5 separate regions of the Homo sapiens genome follow, and regions 1, 3, 4 and 5 are each linked to region 2. Evidence: fine-mapped expression QTL. A gene starts in region 2. Each other region holds a variant in brackets. All regions are shown on one strand. Distances are from middle to middle. Region 1 overlaps MARCHF8 (membrane associated ring-CH-type finger 8). Region 2 holds the start of ALOX5 (arachidonate 5-lipoxygenase). Region 3 overlaps ALOX5 (arachidonate 5-lipoxygenase). Region 4 has its middle 2.8 kb from the start of ZFAND4. Region 5 overlaps ALOX5 (arachidonate 5-lipoxygenase).

What was found.
Region 1: its variant is fine-mapped to the expression of ALOX5 in whole blood (INTERVAL, PIP above 0.99).
Region 3: its variant is fine-mapped to the expression of ALOX5 in whole blood (INTERVAL, PIP above 0.99).
Region 4: its variant is fine-mapped to the expression of ALOX5 in whole blood (INTERVAL, PIP above 0.99). The same link has a PIP of 0.9 or more in monocytes.
Region 5: its variant is fine-mapped to the expression of ALOX5 in whole blood (TOPMed, PIP above 0.99).

Annotation. Positions count from the first base shown.
Region 1 is chr10:45,517,041-45,521,969 of GRCh38, reverse strand. The region is part of intron 2 of MARCHF8 (membrane associated ring-CH-type finger 8); the gene reads left to right. Among named protein-coding and RNA genes, the nearest start is that of MARCHF8, 16 kb to the left of the region's middle. The variant C/T (reference allele first, on the strand shown) is at 2,100.
Region 2 is chr10:45,371,830-45,376,649 of GRCh38, reverse strand. ALOX5 (arachidonate 5-lipoxygenase) reads right to left here and starts at 2,434. Exons shown (of 14, transcript NM_000698.5): 1 at 2,221-2,434. The coding sequence starts at 2,370. RefSeq lists enhancers at 1,447-2,055, 2,056-2,666.
Region 3 is chr10:45,441,606-45,445,605 of GRCh38, reverse strand. It overlaps ALOX5 (arachidonate 5-lipoxygenase), which reads right to left. Exons shown (of 14, transcript NM_000698.5): 10 at 2,390-2,568; 11 at 2,069-2,190; 12 at 1,778-1,878; 13 at 1,320-1,490; 14 at 1-98. It overlaps LOC102724323 (a long non-coding RNA gene), which reads left to right. Exons shown (of 3, transcript NR_120674.1): 3 at 754-1,038. Among named protein-coding and RNA genes, the nearest start is that of ALOX5, 69 kb to the right of the region's middle. RefSeq lists enhancers at 1,897-2,665, 2,666-3,436 and a silencer at 3,793-4,000. The variant C/T (reference allele first, on the strand shown) is at 2,362.
Region 4 is chr10:45,673,088-45,678,016 of GRCh38, reverse strand. No RefSeq gene overlaps it. Among named protein-coding and RNA genes, the nearest start is that of ZFAND4, 2.8 kb to the right of the region's middle. The variant CCCA/A (reference allele first, on the strand shown) is at 2,387.
Region 5 is chr10:45,417,650-45,421,649 of GRCh38, reverse strand. The region is part of intron 4 of ALOX5 (arachidonate 5-lipoxygenase); the gene reads right to left. Among named protein-coding and RNA genes, the nearest start is that of ALOX5, 45 kb to the right of the region's middle. RefSeq lists enhancers at 796-1,297, 1,326-2,017, 2,018-2,711. The variant C/T (reference allele first, on the strand shown) is at 2,354.

The sequences.
Region 1 (4,929 bases), 150 kb before region 2:
TGGGAAAGCTGAATATTTTCTATATATTAGATAATAATGATAGAATTACAGTTAATTTTATGCATCAGAATATGTATATCAGAGAAAGAAAAAGTAAATGGGCAGATTTTATAACAGTTGATGCATCTAGGTGAAGGACAGACAGGTATTCATTGTACTATTCTTTTAGCTTTTCTGTAGATTTAAAGTTTTTCAAATCAAAAGTTTTGGGAAATAAAAGATTATGCTTGCCGAAAGTGAGCTGAAGAAAGCGTCGCAGTAGACAATAATAAATAGTAAATTATACGAAATAATTTAAAGGCCAATGGGCAAGTTATCTCACACTTCCTAGGTATTCATATAATTTTAAATCTAATTCCAAATTTTTTGTTATCTTATGTAAACATTGGTTTGCACCATGTCTGGGAGGCACAGGCAGACTTTCCAAAAGGAGCAGAAGCATGGGCAGTTTTAACGACTCCATTTTCAGATCTTTACCTTCCACATACACTTGAGCCTAAAACTGTTCATGCACCCACATTTCTGAGCAGCTAGTTTTCGACTCTGAAGAAGGAAAGGCCCCTACATTTTACTATGTCTCTTAATTTTGCTATGCTGCATTGTTCTAGGGAATAAAAATCAGGTCATCAAACAAAGGAATACTTGGAATTACTGGTTTTGGGTAATCTTTTTTACTGCTTAATCAAATCATGGTATACCTGCCTAGGCAGTTTATCTTTTCCTGTCTTATTCAAGAGGCTTCAAAATGAAGGTATTTGGGCACATTCTGGATTCAGATATATCATAGGTAGATTTATAAAAGTGACTTCATTCCCCATCAATTGTTCTTCAATGAAGAACTTTTGGGGAAAAGACCCTTAAAAGCAAAGCAGAGTGAGTTTCAAGTGATGAAAATAGTTTTCTAAAAAATGTAACGTAATTAAAGATAAGTTGATTATTTTTTTTAGCTGTTCACAGGTTTAGTTGCTACGATGGGTAATTAACTAGAAAGCAATATACCTTTGAACAGCAACTTTTCAAGATATTACAGATAAAGAACAAAGTTAAAAGTATTTTGTGATTTCTTTCAGTTGAAATGTGTATCATTCAACAAAGTAGTTAATGCTTCTTTTTATCAAATCATAGAAAATATTCCAATTATATTTAATCCTCATAAAATATTTTGTATTTTCTATCTCCTAATAAAAAATGTAATTACATTCTTGCTGTCAGACTGATTTGTTTTTAGAAGTACAGTAATTGCAGCAGGTTTTAATCTCACATTGGTATTTGCTTCACGCCCCCTCGTGTGGTAGAATGGAACTTGTAGACTAGGTAAATTCTTAGAACATAAGAAAAGCGCCTGATGGAGTCCCCCAGAAATCTGGTGACTAGCCCAGGCCACAGTTGTACTTGTCACCTGTTTTAGACCCTCGTCCCATTCTAACTCTCAAGACTGACTTTGCTTTACCCTGAACCACACATACCTTTGTACAGTTTATCCTGGCCAGCACTACTTCAGCATTGATTTTTTTCCCCAGTATGAAAGGAACTTAATTTGATATTATTTAGCTTAAATAATGCTGTATACTATGTCAAGTATTCACAGATGGTTTAAATGCTTAAGAATGTTTATTACTGTGAATACTGTTTTTTACTGTATTTAAGTAGGCCAACATATGGTATTTATAAATTGCCTCTATAACATTTATGGATTAAAATTTTTATATTTCGAATAATGGCTAACACTTACATATCATTTACTGTGAGCCAGGCACTGTCCCAAGGACTTTCCATATGTTAACTCACTAAATTGAATCCTTACAGCAACCCTTTGAAGTAGGCATTACTGTTGTGGTCATGATCACTTTATGGATTGATTTGGAAGCTGAGAATCAAAAAGGTTGGGTATGTGATAACTGATGGAGGTGGGATTTGAGTCTTGGGTCACTGCTGCTGAGTGCGTAGTTCTCATCACCTGGGCAGTGAGTGGTGCACTCCAGGTGCTGTTGTCCTCCTCAGGTGAAGGAGAGCTGCTGCTCTTATTTGTTCATGACATTCCCTCTGAGTCACCTGGGCTAGAAACTAGGGAGCTCCTTTTGCCGACTTTGCTCTTAATG[C/T]GCCACTCATCAATAAGTTTTACTGATTCCACCTCTGAAATGTTTTCTTTGTCCTTCCTCTCTGCCCTGGTGCTACTGCTGTATTTCAGGCAGCCGTGTAGGTCAGGGGCTGGCAAATCATAGCCCATGGTCCAAATCCAGCCACTGCTGTTTTTTATGACTTGCCAGCTAAAAACGGTTTTTACATTTTTAAATGGTTGGAGAAAAGTCAAGAGATTAATATTTTACGATGCATGAAAATGATATGAAATCAAAATTTCAGTTTTCATAAATATAGTTTTATTGGAGTAGAGCCATGCTCATTTCCTTGTGACTACTTTTGTCTGACAATGGCAGAATTGAGTAGGTGTAATAGAGAATATGACTTGCAAAGCATAAAATATTTCCTCTCTGGCTCTTTACAGAAAAAGTTTGCTGACCCTTGATCTAGATTATTGCAGTAGTCTACTTACTGACTTCCCAAACCTTCCCTTATGTCTCCTTCCTTTCTGTTCTCATTGTGGATGGATGGGTGGTAGTGGGAGGATACAAGAAACTAGCATCTGTATCTCTGATATGGCGTTTATTTAGTTTTGCCACATAGTCATATCTGTTAGTTGTTTACCTGTTTATCTCATGTAATAGAGTAGGAACTCCTTATTGTACAGATGATACCTTACTCATGAACAAAGGGATGGTATCCACATGATACCCATGCTTGAATGAAGATATATTCAATCCTTTACGAATGGCACTTTAAATTTTTACTCACATATTTTATATTTTCATTTTAAGATCAAATTGAAAAAGACAGCAGTTGGTGAAATCTGTCAGAAGTTTTTTTGTGTGTGTAGACTCCCTTCCAGCATATCTTTTAGAGCTTTTACAAGGTGGTGGGATCCTTGTTACTTCTTTTGTAACACTGACAAAGGAAGTGTTACGAAGGTGTTACTAGGTCCTCTCACAAGTACAGTGGTTTAAAAGCTAAGCCATTTTGATTAGTGTATGATACATGCTTTATTAGAGCCATTCTGGCCAAGAGCAATGATAGGATGCTGGTAGCTTTGGGAATGCTCTTGAAAGTTACAAGAGGGCTCTAGAACCATACCAGTGTCCAGGGGTTACAGTTTGCTGCTGAACTGAGATCAGCAGGATTGGCATTACAGAGATAATGTGGAAACGGATTTCCATTCCACAGGATGCTCCCTTGGGCAATCTGTTAGGAGTTGAGGAAGCTCCTAATATTCTGGAAGGACCAAACATGTACAGTAAAGGTCAGAGCAAACTGGATATCTCGTCTAGAGTATTGGGCAGTGTTTGAGGAGGCAGGTTTTGAAGATCATGGAAAGCAAAAGTTCTTCAGATCAGAGTCTTTAGAGCAGTAGTCTAGGCAGGGAAAATCCATGAATGGGTGAACTGCAGGCAGGTAGGTTGTTGATACTTTCCTGCTGCCTCAAGGACATACCATTGCTGTTGTCTTAAGAGTTCTGAGGTCTTGGTTGTAATGTCAGCAGTGCGAGAATACACATGTCATCAAGCTGCAAACTGCGTTCTGTGTCATCGGAGCTCTCTTTTCTGTACTGATGTGGCACTGTGATGGTAGAATCACAGATACTCAGGGGTCAGTCCAACTTTAATTCAGAGTTCTTCTGAAGGTTGGAAGGACTTGCCTGATAACCATCACCTTGCCTTCATTGATAATTCTTATGAAAGCCTGCCCCTCCATAGTCATCAGGCCTTTTATCTCAGACAACCAAGAGCAACCAGAATTCTTTATGAGACACCTGAGATACGATGTGCACTCATCACCTCTTGTATTAGCTGCCAGGAAGCCTAGTCTCTGAGAGAAGTACCTGATAATGCAAAAAAATTAAGTTTTAACTTAAAATATTCAAGAAACATAGATTGCTAAGATCACGATCATCTTAAAATTGGAGGGTTAGTTTATCACTTACAATTAATAGTGCCTAGCAGTCTCTTATGCTTGTTTGACATTTGTCATGAAAAAACATTGCAAATCCTTGCCTGTGTTATATATTTGTTCACCCAGACATCAGTCTGCTAAGGAGGACATGGAGAATATAGACTTTCATGAAGGTATACAAGAAAATGTGAAGGGCACTGTATTCCAGAGTCTTTTTGTGTGAAGTTTTAGTTATAGCAGTTCTAAGCCCTTATGTTAGGCTGTCTTGTTGCTGTAAAGAAATACCTGAGACTGAGTAATTCATAAAGAGGTTTAATTGCCTCGTGGTTCTGTAGGCTGTACAGGAAGCCTGACACCGGCATCTGTTCAGCTTCTGGTGAGGCCTTGGGCTGCTTACAGAAGGCAGAGGGAGAGTGTTGTCTCATATGGCGAGAGCAGGAGCAAGAGGTCTGGGGAGGTGCCACACATTCTTAAATGACCAGATCTTCTGAGAAATCACTCTATCATGAGGACAGCACCAAGGGGATGGTGGTAAAAACCATTCCTGAGGGATCAGCCCCCATGATCCAGTCGACCTCCCACCAGGTCACACCTCCAACATTGGCAATTAAATTTCAACATGAGATTTGGTGGAGACAAATATCCAAACTATTTTGAGCCCTTCTTAAGAGGTTCTCTTTTTACATTATATTCATATTACTATTCTTGGGATGGGGAATGGAAGGAGGCCCTAAAACATCGGTAGAATTGTTCACGTGTATAGTCCATAAGAAAAGTTTTTAATAACTTGGTTAAGTGCTAGTGGATTCACAACTCTACTGTCAACTAGCTGATACTCCAGGGAAATTTGGTGTCCATGTTTTGACTTCTTGTTGTGCTACTCACCACTGTTGCCACCATTGTGCCAAACTGTCTGTCCTTTTAATT
Region 2 (4,820 bases):
TACCTTTATTGTTATTGTTATCGTTACTACTGTTAACAATACAGATTTTAACACTTTTCCCTGTAAAATGGGATAACCTTGTCTTCTCAGCAAGTACTTCCTCTAGGGTTTCTCTTTTACCTTTACCCAAAAAGGATGATTGTCTTTACAGATACCAAGCTGGGAGAATGAGGAAGTAGTTCTGGGCTGGGCAAGAGAAAGTGTTGAGTAACTTTGCATCAACAGGAACTTTCTCAAAAGCTGATTTTTTCAAGGAAACTTTCAGCCTTAGCTGGTTCCCCACCCTGCGGTAGCCCCCACCCCCAACCACCCCCCGCCCCACCCCTGACTTATAGCCCTCTCAACCCAATGGAAATGTGACATGCAAATCTCTCCTGAAATTTGCCCCTGGGATTCCGGCTGAGGTGTTTAATTATAATGTCATTTGAATGACTTCTCAGGGTAGGGGAAGACAGACCGAGAGAGGGAGATAGTGGACAAAACAGTGCCTTCACTCTTTGTCCGAAGAGCCCGCTATGGCCACGTTATCATGTCCCCTGCAGGAGGAAAGCACACACGGGGTGCCCGTGCTGTGCAGTGTGAGCACACCAATGGCCTGTGCTTCTAGAACCTTATGATGTGTGGAGGAGAATGGGGAGGAGGAAGCACTTACAAAGGGGAAGTAGCCTGTACCCTGTCCTTCTCCCCCAGGTGTGGGGAATCCATGAAATAATGGAAGTAAATGAAGGTGCGTCAGAAATGGCAGAGGGTGCCATCACCCTAAATGGACGACACATTAACTCCAGGGCACCGCAGTCCTCAGGGTCAGTTCCCCGACTGGGGCAACTAAGCAACTGAAGGTTGCTCTTGTACTCAACACCTAACTCTTCTTGAAGGGAGCTCAAGCCAGGATGCTAGTGAACTTGGCTGAGGGCCATGTCGTGCTACAGCGAGGGTATGGGCTCCTGGATAGGAATCGAGCCCATGGAGAGCTTGGAATCCAGAAAAAGAGTAGTTTTTACTTACTTTAGGCTCTGCACACCTAAAACACAAATTTTATCCAAGAGTAATCAGTTGAAACATGAACTTGCCGGTTGTATTTGTCCATTATGAGCAATTTCACAAGGTTTGATCAAATAATAAACTAAATGGTGAGAAGGCAGCTTGGTAAAGTCTAAATCTTTTTGGTCCAGTTAGGAGCTGGGGTGGGGTGGAAGGGAACTGATATTCCCTGCGCACCTGCAGTATGTCTGGGACTATTACCAGTCATTTACGGAGCGCTTCCTCTGTGCCAGGTACTGGATTAGGCACTTCATTAAAGGCTCAGTGAGAACTGCGACCTGCCCATGCTCATGGAAAAGAGTCGTGGGGCTGGAATTCAGGTCCAGATCAGCATTAGGAACTAGCTTCCAAATGCTGAGGGCTCCCTCGCGTCCTCACACCTAGCGTGGAAGTGTTCCCTGGTGTACATTCTGCTGGGAGGGAGTGCAGCCCCTCCATTTAGGAAAAGCCTCTCCTGGCCTGGGTTCTGTTCCTTCCCTTTAATTTCCTCTGGGGACTGTCCTGAGAATGTAAGCTGCCCAGGTGCCGTCTGAGCCACCAGATGGGCCTGGGCTCACCCATGACTCATGGACCAGACTGAAGCCAACCCTCCATTTTCAGCTGGGGAAACTGAGGCCCAGACAGACGGTAGAGTGAGCTGGTGGTCATGTCTGGACAGAACTCAGGCCTCTGGACCCGCTGACGTGCACCCTTCCCCACGGCTCACAGCTGGCTGCTCCGAGGTGCCCTCAGAGTTCTGTGAGCATGACTCATCTGCCTCTCCCTCCCTGTGCGACCTGCAGAAGGAGCCTAAGGAAGAGGTGGCACAAGAAACGCGGCCCAGTGAAGGGGGCTCCGGAGCCTCGGAGCCCAGATCTTGAAGTGGAGGGGAAACCTTGGGCCTTCTCCTCCCAGGGAAGACGCCTTGCAGGCGGCACGCGGGAAGTCTCCGTTTCCGACAGGGGTCGCGGCCGCCGCGAGGGGTCCTGGACGCTTGCCCACCAGGGTACCCACCGGCCACTGGGAGCCCAGGGCACGCCCCACCGCAGTTCTGCCCTCCCTGACAGGGTCCTGGACACCCCCAGTCCTGTCCGGGCCGCCCCGACGGGCCCTCGGCGCCCCCGCCCAGGCCTCTGCCGTCCAAACCGGGTCCCGGACGCACCTCAGCCCGCGCTCCACCCGTGCCCCGCCCGCGCTCACCGCGCCACGCTCGAAGTCGTTGTAGAAGGGCTTGTCCAGCAGGTGCTTCTCGCTGCAGCCCGCCGAGCCCACGAGGCTGAGGTAGATGTAGTCGTCAGTGCCGGCGAACCACTGGCTGCCAGTGGCCACGGTGACCGTGTAGGAGGGCATGGCGCGGGCCGCGGGAGCAGCGAGCGCCGGGAGCCTCGGCGCGGCGGTCCAGGTGTCCGCATCTAGCGCCGCAGCCTCCTCCCACCACTGGTCCCTGGCCCCGGTCCCGGCCCCGCCCCGGTCTGGCTCCAGGCTCCCGGCTGCCCCCGCCCCCGCCCCCGCCCCCGCCCCCGCCCCCGCAGTACTTCTCTCCCACTCTTCACGCGGCGCCGACTGGGCGGGACCTCGCCTCGGGCGGGGCAGGGGCCTCGCTCCTGGGTCTCTCCTCAGCGAGGTGTCTGTTCCTGCAGCCAGGGGACTGGGGCAACCTCGGCTGCCACCCCTCATCCATTCGTTCACTCGTTCTCTCCTGAATTGCTTCCACCCTTTGCCCTGCCTGCCTGCCTCGGCTTCGCCCAAGGCCAGGCTCCTGTAGGCCCTGGGGTGGAGCTGCGGGGACTCCCTACAAATCTAGGCACAGCCTCTGCTCTCCCCAAGTTCTCAGTGCCACTTGCGGTACTTGGAGCAGGGGTGCTCCGGGAGTCTGCAGAGGAAGAGCGACCCATGAGAGAATCAGAAGGGCTTCCTGGAGGAGGCCACCCCAGCGCTGATACTGAGGATGGATTCTGGAGCACAGAGGCTCCTTCAGCGCGGGCTTCTTCACTGGCTGGACCTGCGGCTCCTGGCGGGGGCAGGCGGGCGCCGAGACCGCGCCCAGGCCCAGAGATGGCCAGTGGTCGCGGGAGGCAGGCGGGACGGCACATCTGGACATGCGGGGCTGTCTAGGGGAGGCCAGGGGTCACGGGTCGGCTCTCTGAATCGCGGCGGGCAAATGCCTGGAAGGGTGTGGAGAAGGTTTCGCGCGCTCCTGGGCGGCTTCCCGCGGCTGGGGCCTGACCCCCAGGTTCCCGCCCACTCCTGGCGCCCGCCTCTCCCAGCCCCGCCGGCAGCGCAGGGTCTGACGGGCACACAGTCGCGTGTATTGATCTCGGCTAAGTTTAAACACTAGCTCACCGTGCGTGGGGCGGCGGGGATGTGAAGTCCCCAAAGGCGGCTGCCTACATTCTCACCAACGCTTCATGTCTGTGAAGCAGCAGAGTCCCTGTAGCATCTCCTCATACTGTCTTGGGTTTGTGCACCTGGCAAATGGCTTTGAACATCTTTTCACATGCTTGTTGGATATCTGTATATTTTTGGAGAGATGTATATTCAGATGCTTGACTCTTTGGAAAACTGGGCTATTTATCTTTTTTATCATTGAATTGCATTATTTATATATCCTGGATAGAAGTCTCTAATCGGATACATGACTTACAGACATTTTTATTGCTTCTGCGGGTTGTGTTTTCACTTTCTTGATGATGTTTGAAGCACAAAAGTATTTAACTTTAAGTCCAATTTCTTTTGTCGCTTGTGATTTTGGGGTCCTATCTGAGAAACCACTGCCTACAATAACATCTTAAAGATTTACTCCTAGGTTTTCCTCTAGGATTATTATAGTTTTAGCTTTTCATTTACATCCGTGACCCATTTTGAGTTAGTTTTTATGCATGGAGCGATAGAAGAATTCAAATTCATTGTGTTGCATGTGCATGTCCGGTTGTCCATGCATCATTTGTTGAATTCATTATTCTTTTCCCATTGCGTTGTCTTGACACCTTATTAAAAAGTAATTCATTATAAACATAACGGTTTATTTCTGGACATTGATTCTAGTCCACTGATCTGTAATGTACATGCTATACAGTGCCACACTGCTTGATTACCGCAGTGCTATAGTAAGTTTTGAAATTGGAAAATGTTAATCCACCAACGCTGTTCTTTATTTTTCAATATTGTTTTGGTTATTCTGGATCCTTTGAGATTCCATATAAATTATAGAATCAGCTTGTCAATTTCAGCCAAAAAGCAAGCTAGGATTTTGATAGGGGTTGAGTTGAAGCTGTAGATCAATTTGGGGAATATTGTCACTTTAACAATATTAAGTCTTCTGATCCATAGAATATGTTTCAGCTTATTTAAATCTTTTCTTTTCTTTTCGACTCTTTGGAGTCTCCCTCTGTTGCCCAGGCTAAAGTGCAGTGGTACAATCTCGGCACACTGCAACCTCTGCTTCCCAGGTTCAAGTGATCCATTTACTTAAATCTTTTCTGATTTATTTCAAAATATTTTGTAGTTTTCAGTGCACTTTTTATTTCTAAATAATTTATGTTTGATACTATTGTAAATGGAATTTTAATTCATTTTGAGATTGTTAATTGCTAGTATATAGAAAAACACTTGATTTTTGTACATTCATTTTATATTCTGCAAACTTGCTGAACTTGTTTATTAGTTCTAATGGTTTGTGTGTGTGTACATGTGCACATTTTCTATATGCAAGATCATGTCATGAGCGAGTAGAGATAGTTTTACTTCTTCTTTTATTTGGAAGCCTTTTATTTCTTTTTCAGGGATAATTGCCCTAGCCA
Region 3 (4,000 bases), 69 kb before region 2:
ACGCTGACAATGGCCTCGAGGTTCTTGCGGAATCGGGCCATGGCTTCCTTCACAGGCTTCTCGATAAAATGCTCTTCTGGGTACATGCCCAGGAACAGCTGAGGGCCCAGACATGGACACACACATAGGTCAATCCACTACCCGTGTAAACTGACAGGCCTGTCTCATCCCAAGGGGCCAGCCACCGTTTGGGAGATGAAGGAGGGAGCATCTATTCACCTCCCCATATTCACCCTCTGCTGCCTGACAAGAGGGCCTCGGGAAGGCAAGTGTCGTCGCCTCCAACCTGCTTCTCTAAGGAAGGCTCCAGGGCTGGGGCTTCATGGATAAGTGGGAAAATAACTGCCTGCTGCCAAGTGGTTACGAGATGATGCAGATGAAGCTGGGGGCTGCTGGTGTTTGCAGCCATGGTATCCTGCTGTCTTGGGCCACCCCTGCGCAGCACTCTCACCTCCCATCAGGGGCGCTGGGGCCAGCACTGGCCTCTCCAGCCCAGGAAGGCAGAAAGCGGGCCAGGGAGCCTGAAGGGGTGGCTGCCCTGTTGGGGTCCTGTGCTTATTTGCATTCTCACACAGATGTCTGCGGGGCAGAGCTAGATATCATTTTAAAAAAATACTGTATTGGATTAAGATCACAAAGCTTCTGAGCTGGAAAGGTCCAAGAAACATAGGCTATTGATAATGGGATTTTGAATTTAGTTTGTGGAGGGCAATTCAGTATCAATATTCTTTGACCAAGGAATTTGTCTGCTAGGAATGTGTGCGGTCATACTGAACACATGTGCAAAGCCACAAAAACAAGGATGTCCAGTGAGGGACCAACACATTGGCCGGGAACAACTCAGACACCCAGCAGTCTGGAGCAGGTTGGACTGGTCCGGCCATTCTATGCAGTACTGAGCTACCCCAAAGCGGGTGCATCCACGAAGACACACCGGATTCAGTTGTTAGGTTAAATGAGATGCACGTGTCCGGAAGGAACCCAGGAAACTCTTGGTCATTCCCTCTGGAGTACCAGGGTAAAACACATGTGCAAGAACTTTGTCAATAGCTGGGGGGAGGGGGCGTCACACACGACCCTCTGGTGACAGTGAGCAAAGCCTGGGCTGTGTGCTCTCCTGCCCTGCACACCCTGAGCTCTGTCCAGGCTGAGGCCGGGGGACCTGGTGGCGGCTGCAGCCTTCTGGGCCCTTCCAGCCTTGGAAGTCAGGATTCCTTTGCTCCAAGTGAGCCTTGGGGCCCGAGTCACAAAGCCCTGAGGCTGAGGAACCGCTTAACCTGGGGTGACCTGGGGCTGTGCCCCGCCCTGCCCAGCTTCACCTCGTTTTCCTGGAACTGGCTCAGCGCCCACACTGCACCCAGATGCCAGCAGGAGCGGCCGCGGTCGGGCAGCGTGTCCACGATCTGCTCAATGGTCACCACGCCCTTGGCAGTCGGTGGCGGGGCTCGCATGGTTGGGGGCGCATTGGGGATCCAGGAGCACCAGTCGTACTGCGGAGACGACCGCCAGCAAGCGTGGGCACCCCCGAAGCCCTGCTGCCCAGCTGCCCCCTGGGCCCCGTCCTCCCCGTGCCCCCCAACTCCAGCGGGCCCTGCAGTCCGTCCATCCTCTTTCCCCGCGGCCAGCGCCCTTGGCTGAGCGGGCAGAATCCATCCTGCAAGTCCCGTGCCAGGCCCCGAGGCTGTCCGAGGGTGCAGTACGCGTGCAGAACCGGGGCGGGGGAGGAGGCAGCGGCCTTGAGAAGGGAGCCCTGCCCAGCGGGCCCGGCCCTGCCTACCTGGCCGAAGTTGACCGCGGCGTGCTGGGCGGAGGCGGTGAAGATCACCACGGTCAGGTACTCCGACAGCTGCTCCCGGCTCTTGACCGACTTGGGGAAGCCTAGGGTGGAACCACCGGCGGGCTGAGGCCCAGTCCCTGAGGACCCCAGGGCCCGGCGCCCACCCCGTGCCCGGATTCCCTGCCCCAAGGCCGGAGGGCACCCTGGGCAGGACACCCCGGAGGGGTGGCGGAGGGGCCAGCGCTGCCGACTGCGGGGGAGCCGGGTCCGGAGACGTCCCGGAGGCCCTACCTGAGGACTTGCGGCCCCGCATGCCGTACACGTAGACATCGTTCACGAAGTCCTGCAGCTCCGGGTCCTCCTCCACCACCTGGTCGCCCTCGTAGTAGATGTCTACCACCTCGGCCGTGAACCTGGCTCAGGGGGCGCAGCCGGGGTGGGCGACCCAGCCAGGTCTGCGGAGCGGTGCCCGGCGGCAACCCCCTCACGGACGCTGGGACTCCCCCACCCCGTCCCCATTCAGCGCTAGCGGTGGAGGGGCCAGGCCCGCCCCAGGTAGTCAGGCAGGGGTCCCGGCTCCTCCC[C/T]CAGGACCACCGCCCCGCGGGCGCTCACGTCCTGATGGCTTCCCACACCAGGAGCCCGTCGTCCCGGTAGAAGTAGTAGGGGATGTCTTCTTTGCTCTCCATGCCCCGGGCCTTGATGGCCTCGGGAAAGCACAGGGAGGCATAGGTCAGGTCCTTCATGGCCCTCTGCACCATCTGCACGTGCCCACCGCCCCCTGTGGCGTTGGCCTGGAGTGGGAGGTAGAGTGCCCTGAGCGGGTGGCTCCTCCCACAGCTGTCCAGACCCATCCCTGAGGAAATGTGCCAGGGGAGGCGAGGAGGCCAGGCAGGCAGAGGTGCAAGCCCTTGTCCTGTGAGATGGGGGAGGGATGTTTAACGCAGAGAATGACAAGGGCAGCCGGGTGGAGAGGTGCTAGGGAGGAGCCTCCCGCCCAATCCAATGCAAGGGACTGAACCGTGGGGCTGCAGAGTACAAGAGGGAAGGGTGCGCTCCCAGCCACAGGAGGGCAGCAGGCGTGGGCAGGTGTGTGGGGGACCCCAGCACCAGCGGGCCTGGGCTGTGAAGTCTGCTCTAGTGCTGAGCACACGACCCTCAGTCATTGCTCTCAGTGACCCTCAGTTTCCAGGACCCATGCAACTCTGTTGAGGGCCTGTTGTGTGCTCAGGTGAGGGCTGGAGAGACCCACAAGGAGGGATCCTGGTCCTGATCCCGATCCCGGCTTCTGAGTGATGCAGACACACTCACAAGCTCACTGGCACATATGTGTGTCCACGTGCACACACACACATGCAAATACACCCAGGGGGCTGGGCTGTCGGTGCCACAGAGGTTTTGAAGAAGGACTTGGGTGCTGGGGTGCCAGAGATTGGTCCACGGTGGGCATTCAGCCCAAGCAGGACCAACCAGAGCTGCCCCCCAGCACTTTCTGTTTAGATGCGGCTGGGAGATAATGGCCACATGAGAACCTGAGGTGGAGCTACTATGATGAGCTCCTGTGCCCTCTCCCATGGGGGCCTGTCTGCAGCAGGAGAGTGTGATGCCAACACAGGTGAAAGAGACAGAAAGAGGGAGCCAGTGTGCATGCACCCTGGGGCATTGCTTGAGTCCCTGGATCCATTTCTGGCTGAGGCCCCCGACCCTCTATTGTGTCCAGGTATTTGAGATAAGGCATGTCTTGTCCAGCTGCAGCTGGTTTGAGTTGGGTTTTGTCATTTGCAGCCCAAACAGTGTCTCAACTTCAGTGGTCATCTGGCCTGGTCACTAATGGGCTGGGGAAAGGAGGAAGGTTGGGGCAAGGGCCCATGTGAGAGTCCAAGCTTGGTAAGGCTACAGAGGGCTCAAAACGAGGTGGGGTGCTACCTGAGGGATGCGAGGGCTGGGCAGGGCCTGGAGTCCCCGATGCAGGAGACAGTGGGTTGGGAGGGTTGGGACCCGGGAAGCAGAGTGCTGGGGAGGTCCAGGTCAGGGTGGCAGGGGTGTGGCAGATTAAGAGGCAGACACAGGTTCCTGGTGCGTAGGAGGTCAGGGGGCCATAAGGAGTGTGTTCCAGAGGGGGGTCTACACCCAGGTCCCAGAGGCTGGGAGAGGGGAGGGGTGGGAGGAGGGGACCAGGAGCCATCAGTGAGAAGGAAGACCTGGTGGTGCGCCTGGAGGAGTGCT
Region 4 (4,929 bases), 300 kb before region 2:
TTGACCACAGCAATCCCTGGGGCCCTAGCGCTACTCTCAATAAAGAGTTATGGCTGTGTGTTTTGAATGACACCTTAGGACCCATCCTGCCTCCACCTCCTTCTCCATAAAATGGAAACCTAACTTGTCCCTCTCCAAGCTCTGAAATGCTGAAACTTACCAACTCCCTTTTCTCCCCGCTATTTCTTCCTTCCGTGGCAGGGACTTTCAGGTTTTCTTTCTTTTACTAACAAGGCACTAAGCATGATTTTCTCATACAAAATCGAGAGCCATAAAGTGGCTTACCACAGTCCTATTTCAATAAAGATGAATACTCGACATCTGGCAAGTAGTGTGTGCCTGACACTGTGCTATGCTCATTTAACCCTCAGAAACAATGTCATTTTACAGATTTTACTGAAGGAGTTGAGATGGAGAAGGTAAGTAACCTCCCCAAGGTCACATGGCTGCTAAGGTTGGGGCCACAATTTGATCCCAGGTAGTCTGAATTCCCCAATTCCTGAAGCATGATTATCGGAAAGCACATTAGTCTGTTTCACACTGATATAAAGAAATACCTGAGGTTGGATAATTTATAAAGGAAACAGGTTTAATTGATTCACAGTTTCGCATGGCTGGGTAGGCTTCAGGAAACTTACAATCATGGCAGAAGGGGAACCAGGTCCGACTTACATGGTGGCCGCACAGAGAGTGGGAACATGTGAAGGAGCAACTGTCAAACATGTGTAAAACCATCAGATCTCAGCTGGGCTTGGTGGCTCACACTTGTAACCCTGGTACTTTGGGAGGCCAAAGCAGGTGGATCAACTGAGGTCAGGAGTTCGAGACCAGCCTAGCTAACTTAGTGAAATCCCGTCTCTACTAAAAATACAAAAATTAGCTGGGTGTGGTGGCGCATGCCCGTAATCCCAGCTACTCAGGAGGCTGAGGCAGGAGAATCACTGGAACCCAGGAGGCAGAGGCTGCAGTGAGCCAAGATCGCGCCATGGTACTGCAGTCTGGGTGACAGAGCAAGACTCCATCCAAAAAACAAAACAAAACAAAACCCTATAAGATCTCATGAGGACTTACTGAATATCACAAGAACAGCATGAGGATAACTGCCCCCGTGATCCAATCACCTCCCCCTAGGCCCCTCCCTCGACACATCAGGATTATGGGGATTATAATTCATGATGAGATGTGGGTGGGGGGACATGGCAAAACCATATCAGAAAGTAAAGGTAGAAGTCAAGCTTGAACAGGAAATGACATTGTAGATTACTATTTTTTTTTTCTTTTTTTTTGAGATGAAGTTTTGCTCTTGTTGCCCAATGAAGTTGTTTTTCTAATTTCATTTTCAGATTGTGTCTTGCAGATGTGTAGAAATACAATTGATAAATGATTCTGGCTATTAACCTTTGATGCTTCAACCTTGCTGAACATGTTTTTTTTTTTTTTTTTTTGAGACGGAGTTTAGCTCTTGTTGCCCAGACTGGTGGCATGATCTTGGCTCACCACAACCTCCGCCTCCCGGGCTCAAGAGATTCTTCTGCCTCAGCCTCCCTAGTAGCTGGGATTACAGGTATGTGCCACCATGCCCGGCTAATTTTGTATTTTTAGTAGAGATAGGGTTTCTCCATGTTGGTCAGGCTGGTCTCGAACTCCCGACCTCAGGTTATCCGTCCACCTCGGCCTCCTAAAGTGCTGGGATTACAGGCATGAGCCACCGTGCCCGGCCAAATCTGCTTATTTTTAAGCTTTTTGATGCTTTTCTGTTTTGTTTCAGTTTTTTTTCCTATTTATTAATACAAGTTCTTTAGGTATTTTGGATAATTGTTAAAAAGCTTTTTAATTTGTTCATTGGTTTCTTTGCTGTGAAGGTTTTCAATTTGGCATTGTCCCATGTTTAGTTTGGCTTTTCATGTCTCCACTTTTGTGACATATTCTGTAAATTATTGTCAAGATCAATACCTAGAAACTTCTAGACAAAAACCTAAAAGAAAAGTTTTCTCATTTCAGGTCTTACACTTAAATGTTGTTTTTTGATTTTTTTTTTTTTGGAGACAGAGTCTCGCTCTGTTGCCCAGGCTGGAGTGCAGTGGTGCGATCTCGACTCACTGCAGCCTTCGCCTCCCGGGTTCAAGTGATTCTCCTGCCTTAGCCTCCTGAGTAGCTGGGACTATAGGCACGCGCTACCACGCCCAGCTAATTTTTGTGCTTTTAGTAGAGACAGGGTTTTGCCATGTTGGCCAGGATGTTCTCGACCTCCTGACCTTGTGATCCACCCGCCTCCGCTTCCCAAAGTGCTGGGATTACAGTCATGAGCCACCACGCTTGGCCACATTTAAATCTTTAATAAATTTTTATTGGATTTTCGTTTGGCAAACTATGCTACCCCCCCCCC[CCCA/A]CTGTCTGATCTTGTTAATAAAGTTTTATTGGAACACAACCACATTCATTGATTTACTTACTTTCTATTGTTGCTTTCACCCTACCTCCAATGTAAGAGTTGAGTAATTATGACGAGACCGGATGGCTCACAGAGCCTCAGATGTTTTCTATCTGCCCCTTTTATTTATTTTTTTGAGACGGAGTCTTGCTCTGTCACCCAGGCTGGAGTGCAGTCATGTGATCTTGGCTCACTGCAACCTCTATTTCCTGGGTTGAAGCGATGCTCCTGCCTCAGCCTCCCGAGTAGCTGGGATTACAGGCGCCTGCCATCACACCCAGCTAATTTTTGTATTTTTAGTAGAGTTGGGGTTTCACCATGTTGGCCAGGTTGGTCTTGAACTCCTGACCTCGTGATCCACCTGCCTCGGCCTCCCAAAGTGCGGGGATAACAGGCGTGAGCCACTGCGCCTGGCCCTGCCCCTTTACATAAACAGTTCGCTGACCATTGCTCTAAGGCATTCTGTTCCATTCTTGCCTTGTGGAAGCAGCAGAATGAACCTAGGTAATAGCCGGGGGAAGTGCTGAGGATAGAAATGTCAGCCTCTAGAGCAGCACTGCCCCATAGAACTCTGCAGGAATGAAAATTTTCTTTATCTGCATCGTCAAAGGCAGTAGCCACTAGCCACCTGGATGGCTGACCCCATTCTAGTCTGTGTTTTTTGGTGCTCTGTCGTCTTGCTGCTGACTATTCAGCCTGTCACCATGGTGCAGTCTTGTAGGCCGCCCAGGTTGGTCTCAGCGATCCTGGAGCTACTGACTTCTTCCTTGGGCACTGTAAGATCAGACAGGGAATTACTCATACCCAGAGTCAAAGATTTTGTTCAGCTCCCACAGGTCAACCATTTGCCCAAGTCTGCTGTGAGAGTGACGTGATGACAGATGAGGGCACTTGCTAGTTGGCCACTCCTTTCCCCTATTCATTTTATGCATCTTCCTTCTGTCCGTAGGTTATTTGTGCACATAGTTTCTTGCTGTAGTACCCAATGTCGGTCAGAGTCAGCATTTGTTAAATACGATGATTTTCTTTTGGAACAACTAAATCTACTCATCAATCAGTAGGATTGGTTTCAGGGGATTCAGGAGACAACAGGTTTAGAAAATACGCAAGCTGCTATTTTGAGAGGCTTGAAAGGGAGAGAGAACTTACGTTAAAAAAAAGTTCCTATGGTAACAACTTTTAATGCTATTTTATTCAGTCTCCATGGTCTATCAGATAGGTAATGTAGTAACACTAATTTTACAGATAAAGCTAAAATCTGGAAGCAATGTGGAATAATGGAACAAGGTTGGATTTTTGTATTGTGTCCTAGTTTAAATATGGCTTTCCGACATAGAGCTGTTTGATTATAGGTAAATTGTTCTACTTTAATTGGCTTTTGTTTACTCCTTTGTAGACGAGGGATTTCACTACCAACTTTGCAGGATTGTGATGGGGAGAGAATACGTAAAGACCCTTATCAACTATCTGGCACTTGAAGAATGGCAGATGATAATGATGATGATGTTGTAAAGAATGAATGACTTGGCCAGGTAATGGAGCTTCTGGTATTGGGAGGCAAGGCTTTAAACACACCTGCCTGACTCCACGGTCCATGCTGTCAATTCTCCAGTGTGAATGAAGTGGGCAGGCAAGGGTGAGAAACGCTAAGGTTTTTACTCAGTAAGTCTCCATCACAGGCCCTATTCTAGGCTCAGGAATGCAAAGATGATTACCATCATAGCTCTGTCCTCAAAGGTCTCCAATCTATTTAGCATTAAGCATATGTGGAGTTTCAGAAGGAACCAACGGCGAGACTGGTGAATCAATGCCCAGTGCCTCACCATACTCCCCCAGTGTATGCTCAATAGTTCGTTGAACTGTGGAGATAAGTTGGTGGGTAGGGTCTCAGAAGAATGAGAGAGGACAGGAGACACAGATTAGATGTTTAGTTTCATATTAGACTGGCTCCTCTGAGCCAGAAGTCGAGGATGAGTGAACCCGCAGTGGGAGTGAGATGACATTCTTTGTCAGCTGAGTAACCCACTTAGTGAAGGAGGTTCACGGAGTTGGAAAATCGGTAGGGGGAACGGAACGAGGCAGTGGGCTCCCATGTTAGGTTGAAAGGCAGGTGTTGGCTTGAAGCCAGTTACTGTTTACACCGCAGCTCAGCAGCTTGGAAACTGGAGCAGGAGGTGTGGCTGGGCTTACCCAACGCTGGGATTTGAGCCCAGGGTGCCTACTCCATTGCCTGGCCTACAGTTCTCAGTAAATTGTATGAGGACTACAGAAAGTTATCTGTTTTCGCCTTTGTCTTCAAGCAGGCACGGTAATGCCCCCATTTTCCAGATGAGGCAATTGAGGCCAGAAACATTAGGGGACGGTGAAGCCTAAAGCAGATTTGTTAGGACAGGCCGGCCCAAACGCACCAGGAGCGCCCCTCACTCTGGAGAGGCCACCGACTGGACAGCGTCTGCCTGTATCGCCTATCTCCAGCAAATCAGGCGCCTGGAAGAGGATCC
Region 5 (4,000 bases), 45 kb before region 2:
GGCACTGGAATACCCAGAGAAGCTTCTTTCAGCCTTGCTGCCTCCTTCCTCCCCCAGCACCCCTCGTCAGCTGAGTGTTCTGGGCTAGGAATGCTTGTCAAGCTGGAGGGGTAAACCTCACTGTAGCATCTGGTGTCAGTCTGGGTGGGGAAAAGAACTTATTTCTGGGAGATGAGAGGCCTACGCAGGCCCCGAGAGCCCTGTAGGGCCTGAAGATGGCCCAGTGCCAGAGGGTGCCCCAGAAAGAGGTCCTGTGCTGGGGCACCTGAGGTCCCGGGTGGTCCCTTGCCCCTGTTCTTTGGAGGAACCAGGAGTGAGTCACCAATTACCCAGCTGGGTCTGTTTGACCTCAAAACAGGAGGTTTACTCTGAAAACAGGGTGGGTCTGGTAGTTCTCAGAAGAAGCCACAGATGTAGGAAGAAGTGGAGTTAGGAGGAACATATTTACATGTCATCTAGAGGCAAAATATTTCTATATCCTTACAGATAACTGGAATATTCAGGGCTTCGAAGACCCGCTTTTGTAAAAAGAAGGACCCTGCAAGCCAGAGAGGGCACCAGGCTTTTTCAAGGCCACACAGGCAGGTAACAGCCACCTTGATCACCTGGCCTAGGGGCAGTGACCTAGCTTTCTCCTGCATCTTCAGCTTTCTCCTGTGCCAAACTGTGGCCCAGGCTGGGCACCAGCTGTTGGCCATGTGCCCGGTGAGCCCCCCACCCCTCGCCCCTACTTCTCCCAGGACGGGCCGCATTTCTGCACTGTCCCGCCTCACTGGGAAGGAAACTCTCTTTCTCAATTTGCTTTAATGAGGCCATTGAGGTTCACCTAACCTCTGTCTCCCTGCTCTTTCCTTCTGCTACCAGCTTTTCCATTTTTTACGCCACAGTTGTGCTGTGCAGGGCAGGAGCAAAGCCTGCTGAGGAGGGCTGGCCCCCTTCCAGGTACAGCAGGTGGCTAGGAGGAACTGCGTGCCAGAATTACTCAGAAGCAGCGGCGAGGAAACCAAGCTGTCGCCAGCCAGAGGTTTAACGGGGAAGGCCTCCTCGGTGACTTCAGCCAAGTTTCAGTTTCCTGCCAGTGGGCACTGAGTTTAACCCACTCTAGGCGGGGAGTGTAGCCATCCAGATTTTAGCAAGGGCCCCAGGGGATTCTGACGCAAGCTATACTTTGAGAACCACTGCTGAAGAGTTTGCAATGTTTTCCAAATTAATTTGACTACAGAACAAATCATTTTTTTGAGGGAAACATGACTTCATGCTTTGTATTAACTCTTGGTCTTATTTTATGATGCATTTTTAACAACATGATGCTACCTTAGCAAATAAAATTGAAATTTTCTAGCCTCGTCTGATTTTTAGATGGGATACCACCCTACATTTTCCAAACAAATTTATTTTACAATGGGACACATCCCTGATTTCATAACAAAATTTAATGAAAGTCAATATGTTTTATAGGCATCAGTTAATAGAAGGGGATTATTTTTTAAATTTCCAAGGATTTCAGAGGCTTTCGGGTAGCATTTGGGAAGTTAAAAGTGGGAGAATCCTACTTGTGTCACAGGAAAAGTGGTTCCTATGAGTGCTTTGGTGACTTGGGGCCAAATGGTTTCTGAGTTGGGATGACGATAAGAGGGGATGTGGTCTTCTTCCCATATACAAACCCACGCTTTGCTTTCCAGTGCCAGGCCAGCAGGCCCCCTCCTCTTCCGGCCTCTCTTTCCTCCGCCATCACTTCTCCCGATCCCCAGCCTGGGTCCTCACCCTTCCTCCTGCTGCTACGTCCCTCCCTTCCTCCACAGGCACCCTGCCCGTCCACTGAGCTCAGGGCCCTTCTCTCCTGGCCTGGCCCCTCCGCAGCCTTCCTTGCCTGGGGGATATCGCTCCTTCCCTACACCCCTGGTGCCTTTTGAAACAGGGTCTCACTCTGCCGCCCAGGCGGGAGTTCAGTGGCGCAGATCACTGCAGCTTCCACCTCCCCGGCTCAAGCGATCCTCCCGCTCGGGAATCCCCGAACACTGGGATTACAGGCGTGAGCCTCCGCACCCACTCCCTACCGATCATCCCCCTTCAGGACGCTGCCATCCATGTAGCTGGGTCGTCTGGAGCACGGGGCATGTGGCTGGCCTGCGGGGCTGGGGGAGGGCCGGTGGGAGTGGCTGCCCTCAGAGCCCACCCCCTAGGCCTCTGCCTGCCCCCAGGTTCCCTCTCCCCCGTCCCTTGTCGGGAGTCACTCGTCAGCTTCTCTTCTCAGCCCGGCTGCGCAGCGCTCTCAACCCAACCCCTGGACTCATCTTCGCCCCAGCCTCCTTCGTGCCCAGCGTCCCTTGTAAATGACCCCCCCGGCCGGGTG[C/T]CCCGCTTTCTCTCTCGGCCTCTTCCGCGTGGTCTGCTCTCCGCCCGCCTGCGCTCGCCCGGCCTCCCTGCCTCTGCGCCTTCACCTGACCGCAAAGGCGGCCAGGGCAGCCTCCGCGCGGCCTGACAGTCACGGCTCCCAGTTTGTCCCTGGACGTGGGAAACTCGGGCTCATAGCGCCTCTACGTACACTGCGGCACAGACTGGCGTTTCCTACGGCGCCTTCACTGGAAAGCGCCCCTGTGGTCCTGGGGAGAGGGCGGCTCCATCCGCCACCCTTCCCGGAGCTGCCCCCGCCCATTCTCATGGGAGGAAATCGCAGGGCGTGTGAGCCCCCGACCCCTCGCCCCCACCTCTTCCAGGACCGGCCGCATTTCTGCACTGTCCCGCCCCACTGGGAAGGAAACTCTCTTTCTCAATTTCCTTTAATGAGGACATTGTCTTTTCAGCCCTGCCACCCCCTGCAATCGTCTTCCAGGCTGCAAACAGCGAGTGGGGAGGTGAACACATCAGCTTTTCCTCCCTCCACACCACCAGGAAATTTCGCAAACCACTTGGCTCTCGGCGGCCTGGCCTCGCCACACCTGTGCCCACAGTCTCTCTCCGCTGCAGCCCCCTGTGCCATTCTCCAGGCCCCACGTACCTCTGCCTGGGCCCAGTAAGACCTGGTCAGATGGCCCCCGGCTGCAAAGCCTTCCTGGGCCCCATCAGAGAGGACGCCCAGGTGAAGCGAGGGTCCCCTGCCCACCCTGCAAGCGCAGGGGCCCTTCCAAGAGTGCAGCCCTAGGCCGGTGTGTGATGGTGGAGACGCGGTCCCAGAGGGCCTGAACCAAGAATGGAGAAGACAAAGGCTGTCTTTAGGGAGAAACTTCCCTGAGGGGCTGATGTGTGCGATCCCATTTTAATCTCACAACCCTGGGGAGGAGCTGGGGCCGGGTCTCATTGTTCATTTGAGGACACCGAGGCTCAGGGAACTTAGACGACTTTCCTAGGGTCCCCCCAACCCCCACCGGCCCAGGGCCCTCTCCCAGGCACCCCTCATCCCCACACAGGCTCCTCTAAGCTGCTTCCTTGTGGTCCAGCCCCCTTGGCTCAGCTCCTCAAATACAGGGACACCTCTTCTCTCCCCCGCAGAACTCAAGGGTCTCCATCCACTGTGCCAGCACAGAGGCGGTGCTCAGAGTGGGGCTAAGCTTACTGTCCAGCCTGCTGGGCCAGGAGGGGCAGAAGGGCCCCTCTCAGGATTCCTTCGCTCTGCTCCTGCCAATAGGCCATCACTCAAGGGGCTAATGACAGGACGATGTGGAGAAACGTGGGCTGCAGCACTTCTGGGGCCAAGGGCAGGGTGGGCGGCACTGGGGAGTACAGGGGAGGGGACCTCACTGGGGCCAGAGGCTTCTAGAAGCTTCTGCAAGAAGGGGCCCCTCACCCATGTCTTGGCCAAGAAGTGGGGAGGGTGGGTGTGGCAAAGGAAACAGCTAGGTCAGAGACAAGAGATGCTCTGCAAAGCCCTGCTGGCTCCCCACGGTGGAGCATCCTATGCATGTAGGACCTGAGAGATGGCAGGGGCGGGTGCGTCCCTATGGATGTATCTCCATTTCTGGGCAGAGACATCTGGGCTCTCACCTGCAATTGAGCCAACCAAGAA